2 separate regions of the Homo sapiens genome follow, and region 2 is linked to region 1. The links come from fine-mapping of genetic effects on gene expression. A gene starts in region 1. The other region holds a variant in brackets. All regions are shown on one strand. Distances are from middle to middle. Region 1 holds the start of RPS6KA1 (ribosomal protein S6 kinase A1). Region 2 overlaps RPS6KA1 (ribosomal protein S6 kinase A1).

What was found. PIP is the estimated chance that this variant, and not a neighbour inherited with it, causes the effect.
Region 2: its variant is fine-mapped to the expression of RPS6KA1 in whole blood (INTERVAL, PIP above 0.99).

The regions. Positions count from the first base shown.
Region 1 is chr1:26,528,282-26,531,183 of GRCh38, reverse strand. It overlaps RPS6KA1 (ribosomal protein S6 kinase A1), which reads right to left and starts at 1,423. Exons shown (of 22, transcript NM_002953.4): 1 at 1,201-1,423. The coding sequence starts at 1,263. LOC124903884 (a long non-coding RNA gene) reads left to right here. Exons shown (of 2, transcript XR_007065558.1): 2 at 623-2,064. RefSeq lists an enhancer at 1-817 and a silencer at 1,059-1,538.
Region 2 is chr1:26,573,457-26,576,358 of GRCh38, reverse strand. RPS6KA1 (ribosomal protein S6 kinase A1) reads right to left here. Exons shown (of 22, transcript NM_002953.4): 22 at 1,334-2,280. The coding sequence ends at 2,158. Among named protein-coding and RNA genes, the nearest start is that of MIR1976, 20 kb to the right of the region's middle. The variant C/T (reference allele first, on the strand shown) is at 1,531.

The DNA of each region.
Region 1 (2,902 bases):
CCTGCCGCGCCCACCCTCCAATAGCCAGTGTCGGCCATCCCTTTAAAGGGGCAGCACACCCTGGGGGCTGGGGACCCTGGGTGCTCACCCTGATCTAAGCCTGTGGTCCTGAGAGGCAGGACACTTGGTGGCTGCCCTAGGTAAGAGAGGGCAGAGGAGGGGACTGAGACAGGGGCTCCAGGCCCAAGCTGGGAGAAAGTCATCTCAGCTCCTGGGCTCAAATGAGGTCTCCATTCCCTCCCTGCATACCCCCAACAACCACCTGGGAAGGAGAATATCACCTGCTTCCTTCCCAGCAAGAGGTTAAGGAGGAAGTTTTCCACCAGCTCATTCAGGGGCTTGACCTTGACCCTGGGGTCAAAAGGCACAGGAAGAGGTGGCCTTCTGCACGCTTAGGGACTGGAGCCACAGAGCCCTCAAGGGAGGTCAGGAGCTGCTTCTGAGAGAGAAGGAGCTGGGTTGTCTGGGGAGTCTGGGCTGGCAGAAGCCAAACTCCCCAAGGGCCCAGCCCTTCCTACCGGAAGGGGCATAAGAAGGGAGGCAGGCACCAAGGTCCCCCCACGCCCTGCCAGGAATCATCTTCACAAGGTCTAAGGGCTCTTCCCCACTCTCGTCTCCACAGCCTGGGGTAGGGCACACAGGTGTCCTCTGGCCCTAGCCTCAGGGCAAAGAAAACCAGGAGTTCCAGCCCCAGACGGGTGGTGCCATCCCACACTCCGCATCCGCCAGGGGTCAAGAGGAGCAATCCTTCTAGGCTCAGCAGCGGTGAAGCCAGAAGCAGGGAGCTCTTGGCGGAGGGCCCTGGGAGAAGTGGGGGTCCCATAACCCCTGTCTCTGGTAGAATCCCAGACATCTGGCACTGAAGATCTCCCCGTCTGCATTAATGGAGGAAGCTCCGACAGCTCTGGACAGATGCCGGGACGGGTCCTAGGTGTGGGGTGAAGGCGACCAGATCTCAGCGCCCCATAGGATCCCCTCTCCTGGCTATGGCGGGGAGGTAGTCGGCGCTTGGCGGAACTGTCCCTCGCACACGCACACCCGGGCATAGGGGGGTGGAGCCGGACAGTGGGCAAGAGATCGGAGGGCACTCGCGCCCTCGCGGGCGCCCGCCGGACTGCAGCGGCGCTTCGGGCCGCCCCGCCCCTGTGAGGATCCGGGCTCGCCGGCCGCGGGCGCCCGTCCCCCGCCCCGCTCACTCACCTCCGGGTCCAGAGGCACTAGCTCCATGAGCGGCCAGGGCTCCTTGAGCTGGGCGAGCGGCATCTCGCCGCCGCCAGGTCACCCGCGCTCCTCCGGCGGCCCCGGCTGCGCCGCCTCCCGGGTCCTGGGGTCCCTGGCTCTGCGACCCGAACCGCCGCGCCCCCCCGAGCCCCTCGCGCTCCGGCTGGGCCGTCCGCCGCCGCCGCCGCGGCACTAGCACTTCGGCTCCCTCCGTCACCCGGCGCCGCCGCGCCCATTGGCTACCTGCGCGGGGGCGGAGCCGGAGAAGCCCCGCCCCAGCCCCCGCGGCGCGGCATTCCCAGCGCGGACCCCCGCCCCCGCCGCGCCCCGAGGGCCGGCCCCGCCCCTGCCGCGAGCCCCCGGCCCGCGCTCGGCTCCGCCGGAGAGGCCCTGCTGGCTCCTTCCCTTCCAGTGGTGTACCCCTGGACACACCACACCAGGGCCACCGTTCTCCCCCGCTCAGCTCTTTTGGAATCCCAGCCCAGATGTTCCTTCTCCTTCCAACGGGAGAGAAGCACCTTATCCCCGACCCCAGCACACACATTCACACTGGGTTCCTGGGCCTGATCTAGGCTGAGGCTTGGAAGGAGCCTGAGACCCACTCCCCTTAGGCCCTCAACTCACCAGGCCCTAGAGATCCCCTATCCTCTAATTTCTACCCCGCCCTGAAGCTAACACTGTGATCTCCGGGCGATCTCAGTGCCCCAGGCCAAGATGGGCATCAGCAGTTGTTACCACCATCAGGACCCATAGTGCCACCACAGAGTGATTGATTGATCGATTGATTTTACATAATGTATATAAATATTACATATATAAATAAATATGTATAAATAAATATTATATATATGCACATATATGTATGTATGTGTGTATATAGTGAGAGAGAGAGAGACACGAAGTTTCGCTTTGTTACCTAGGCTGGTCTCTGACTCCCCGGCTCAAGTGATCCTCCTGCCTCGGCCTCCCAAAGTGCTGGGATTACAGGCATGAGCCACCGCGCCCGGCCAAGAGTGATTTCTTAATATGCGTTTTTGCAATCTGTGCTCTGCCCTATCACTTGAAGGGGGTCCTTTCAGGTCAGGTCTCCCTGGAGTCACCTGCAGCCCCAGCTCTGGACTAGTTTGGGTTTGCGACTCTCTGAGGAGGGACCAGGCTCCCAGGATGAACCGAGGCTTGGTGGGACTTGGAGTGAAAGGCCAGGGAGACTGGTTGCCCCAGAGAGATTCAGCCTCCACCTAAAGAGCCTTAGGGGTCCGGGTGTGCTGAGATGTATTCACATGTGAGGAGTGAGCTTGCTGGAGGGACAAGCTTGCTGGTTTCGCAGGAAGACTGGTCAGTTATTTGCAAAGCTGTTCTAAGGCAGGGGAATGGGAAGGAATGTTTATCAAAAGCTTCCTGCGAGCCATGTGATTTCCTTGAATGATTACCACCACCTAGTTTACAAATCCTGAAACAAGCTCGGAAAGATGAAGTGACTTACCCAAGGTCACACAAGAGGTTGAGAACAGACTAGGGCTTAAAAAAATCAAAGTGTCACACCTGTAATCCCAGCACTGGGAGGCCGAGGCGGGCGGATCACGAGGTCAGGAGATTGAAACCATCCTGGCTAACATGATGAAACCCTGTCTCTACTAAAAATACAAAAAATTAGTAGGGCGTGGTGGCAGGCACCTGTAGT
Region 2 (2,902 bases), 45 kb before region 1:
TATCCTGACCCCATCTACTCCATCCCAATCTCCATCCCACCACCCTAGTCCAAGCCACCTCATCTCTTGCCTGGGCTACTGCAGTAGCCACCAACCTGGTCACCTTGCTTCCCTCCTGCCTCCCCACCTCACTGTCCAAATTCTCTACAGAGCAATCGGAGTGATCTTTTATTTTTTTGAGACAGTCTCGCTCTGTCGCCTGGGCTGGAGTGCAGTGGTGCGATCGCGGCTCACTGCAACCTCTGTCTCCCAGATTCAAGCAATTCTCATGCCTCAGCCTTGCGAGCTGATGGGTGGGAGCATGCGCCACCACACCCAGCTAATTTTTGTATTTCTAGTAGAGAGAGTTTCGCCATGTTGGCCAGGCTGGTCTTGAACTCCTGACCTCAAGTGATCTGCCTGCCTCGGCCTCCCAAAGTGGTGGGATAACAGGCGTGAACCACTGCACCTGGCCCAGAGTGATCTCTTAAAAATGTGAATCAAATCATGATCAAATCATGTCACTTTCCTGCTCAAATTATTTTAGGAGCTTGCGCCTCACTCAGAATTAAATGCACGCCTAATCCTGGCTTACAGTGCCTAGCATAACTGGCCTCTGCCTCCTTTCCAGCCTCATCTTGGGCAAACGCCTGGCTCTGGGGTCACAGCTACATCAGCCTCCTCTCATCCCTGAGCACACCGAGCCTGTTTCCCCCTCATGGCCTTTGTCCTGACTGCCCTCTGCCTACCAGTCTTGGCTGACCCCTTCTCACCATTCAGATCTCAGCTCCTGGGTTACCTCCCCAGAATGGCCTTCCCTGATTACCCAATATCTCACCCCAGTTTAATTCTGTATGTGTCTTATCAGTAGCTGACCATGGCTTGTTAAGTGTCCGTTTCCCCTACTGGGAAGTAAGACCCCTGGACACAATGACCTTGTTCTTTACCTGGTTCACCAGCATCCAGAACAGGGCCAGAATGAGTGCTCAGAAAATACTGCATGAGAAAATGTCATTCCCCAACTTGAGCCTGTTTCCCCATCTATAAAACAGGGATAATACAGAGCATCTACCTCACAGGGTTAAGATTAAATGAGATATTCATGTGAGGCCCAGGCATAGTGCCTGGCACTTGGTCACCATTGGCTAATAATACTGTTATCAATACCATAATGGAATCCCCTGGCAGGAACACGTGGGCCAGGCCAGCGGGATTCCCACACACTCCCCAGATGACCTGGTTCCAAGCAGCTGGGCTAACTGGCCCTGGCCCATTTTCTGTCACTGCCAATGTCTTCAACATCCGATAGCAGAGAGAGGGTAAATTCAGGGATGAAGAGTGCAGGAGAGCGTGCTTCAACTCAACAGTTTATTAGAAAGGCCATGGACAGATGAACCCTGAGTAACCAGCTGAGGAAGAAATGAAAAAAGACCCTGTCCCTCATGGCCCGCCCACTGGCCTCCTGTGAACTCTGTCCTGTTGCCAACCCCAGATGAAGTCAGCCAAAAAGTGCTTTCCACATCCTCTCTCTGGGGCTGCCCAGCCTGACCG[C/T]AGGGGATCCACTGGCAGAGCCAAGGTGGATGCTGGTGCCTGAAGCTGGAAGCCAGCAGGACATGAGACCCCTCCTGTAGCAGGAAGTGGTTCTAGAACTCCCAGCAGAACAGAACGGAAAAGGAGCTGATTGGGGATAGAATGAGTTCTGCTAAACAGCCAGATGCTCTGAGAGAGGTGACACTGGACTGTCTCGGAGGTGTGTGCAGATGGCTACAGGTGGCCAATCGTGGGGGTCCCCAGGGTGGGATCCCAAAGCTGCTCTAAAGAGTCTCAGAGAGCCCCAGCGTGACTCAGTTCCCCTCCTGGGGCCGCAATGGCTGTTTCTGCTCCCAGAAAGGCAAATGGATCTTGTAAAAATCCATGGTGGTTGATGCCATTTTTTTCATAAAAAAAAGTTTATACAGTGAATCGCTTTCCACCAGCAGAGCCTGAGCCGAGAAGAGTCCATCCTGGGGAAGGAGAAGGCACTTCTCACACCCTCATTAGGGGTGTTCTGGGCTGGCAGCTTCCCCGGCCCCTCGGGTTCCAGCTCCCTCTGGCCCTGTGGTTCCGGCCTGCTCCCTCTGGGAAGCATGCTGACTGTGTCAAGCTAGCACCGCCCTGTGGCCCGAATGCCCTGGTGCCTCACAGGGTGGTGGATGGCAACTTCCTCACTCGCCGCTGGGCCAGGATGGATGACTCGATGGGCTTCAGCTGGGGGGTGGGCTTGGAGCTGTTGAGTGCGGAGTACGTGGCAGCCATGGCTCCCTGAAAGAGAAGTGGGGAGGTCAGGTCACAATGGTGGGAGATGTAGCGGGGAGGGGATCCATGCCCCAAGGGTAGGCCAGCCCCTCTCAGTGTTCCACAGCCCACTTTTTTTGGTTTTGTTTTTGTTGTTTTTTTTTTTTTGAGATACAGTCTCACTCTGTCACCCAGGCTGGAACGCAATGGCACAATCTTGGCTCACTGCAACCTCTGCCCCCAGGGTTCAAGCGATTCTCCTGTCTCAGCCTCCCAAATGGCTGGGATTACAGGCGCTTGCCACCACACCTGGCTAATTTTTGTATTTTTAGTAGAGATGGGGTTTCACCATCTTGGTCAGGCTGGTCTTGAACTCCTGACCTCGTGATCCACCCACCTCAGCCTCCCAAAGTGCTGGGATTACAGGTGTGAGCCACCGCGCCCAGCCTAGCCCACTGTTAATCCAGCCTCAGTGGTCCTTTATGGTCATGGGTCCTGCCTCCCCCATCAGACTGGAGGGTTCAGAGGTCAGCAGCTGTGCCTTCCAGAGGATTGGGGGCTGTGAGTGCACCGTGACACTGTAGCATGTTAGGCTCCCTGACGGCAGGGCTGTGTCTTCTTCTCCTATGTTCCACCTCATGGTGCTTGG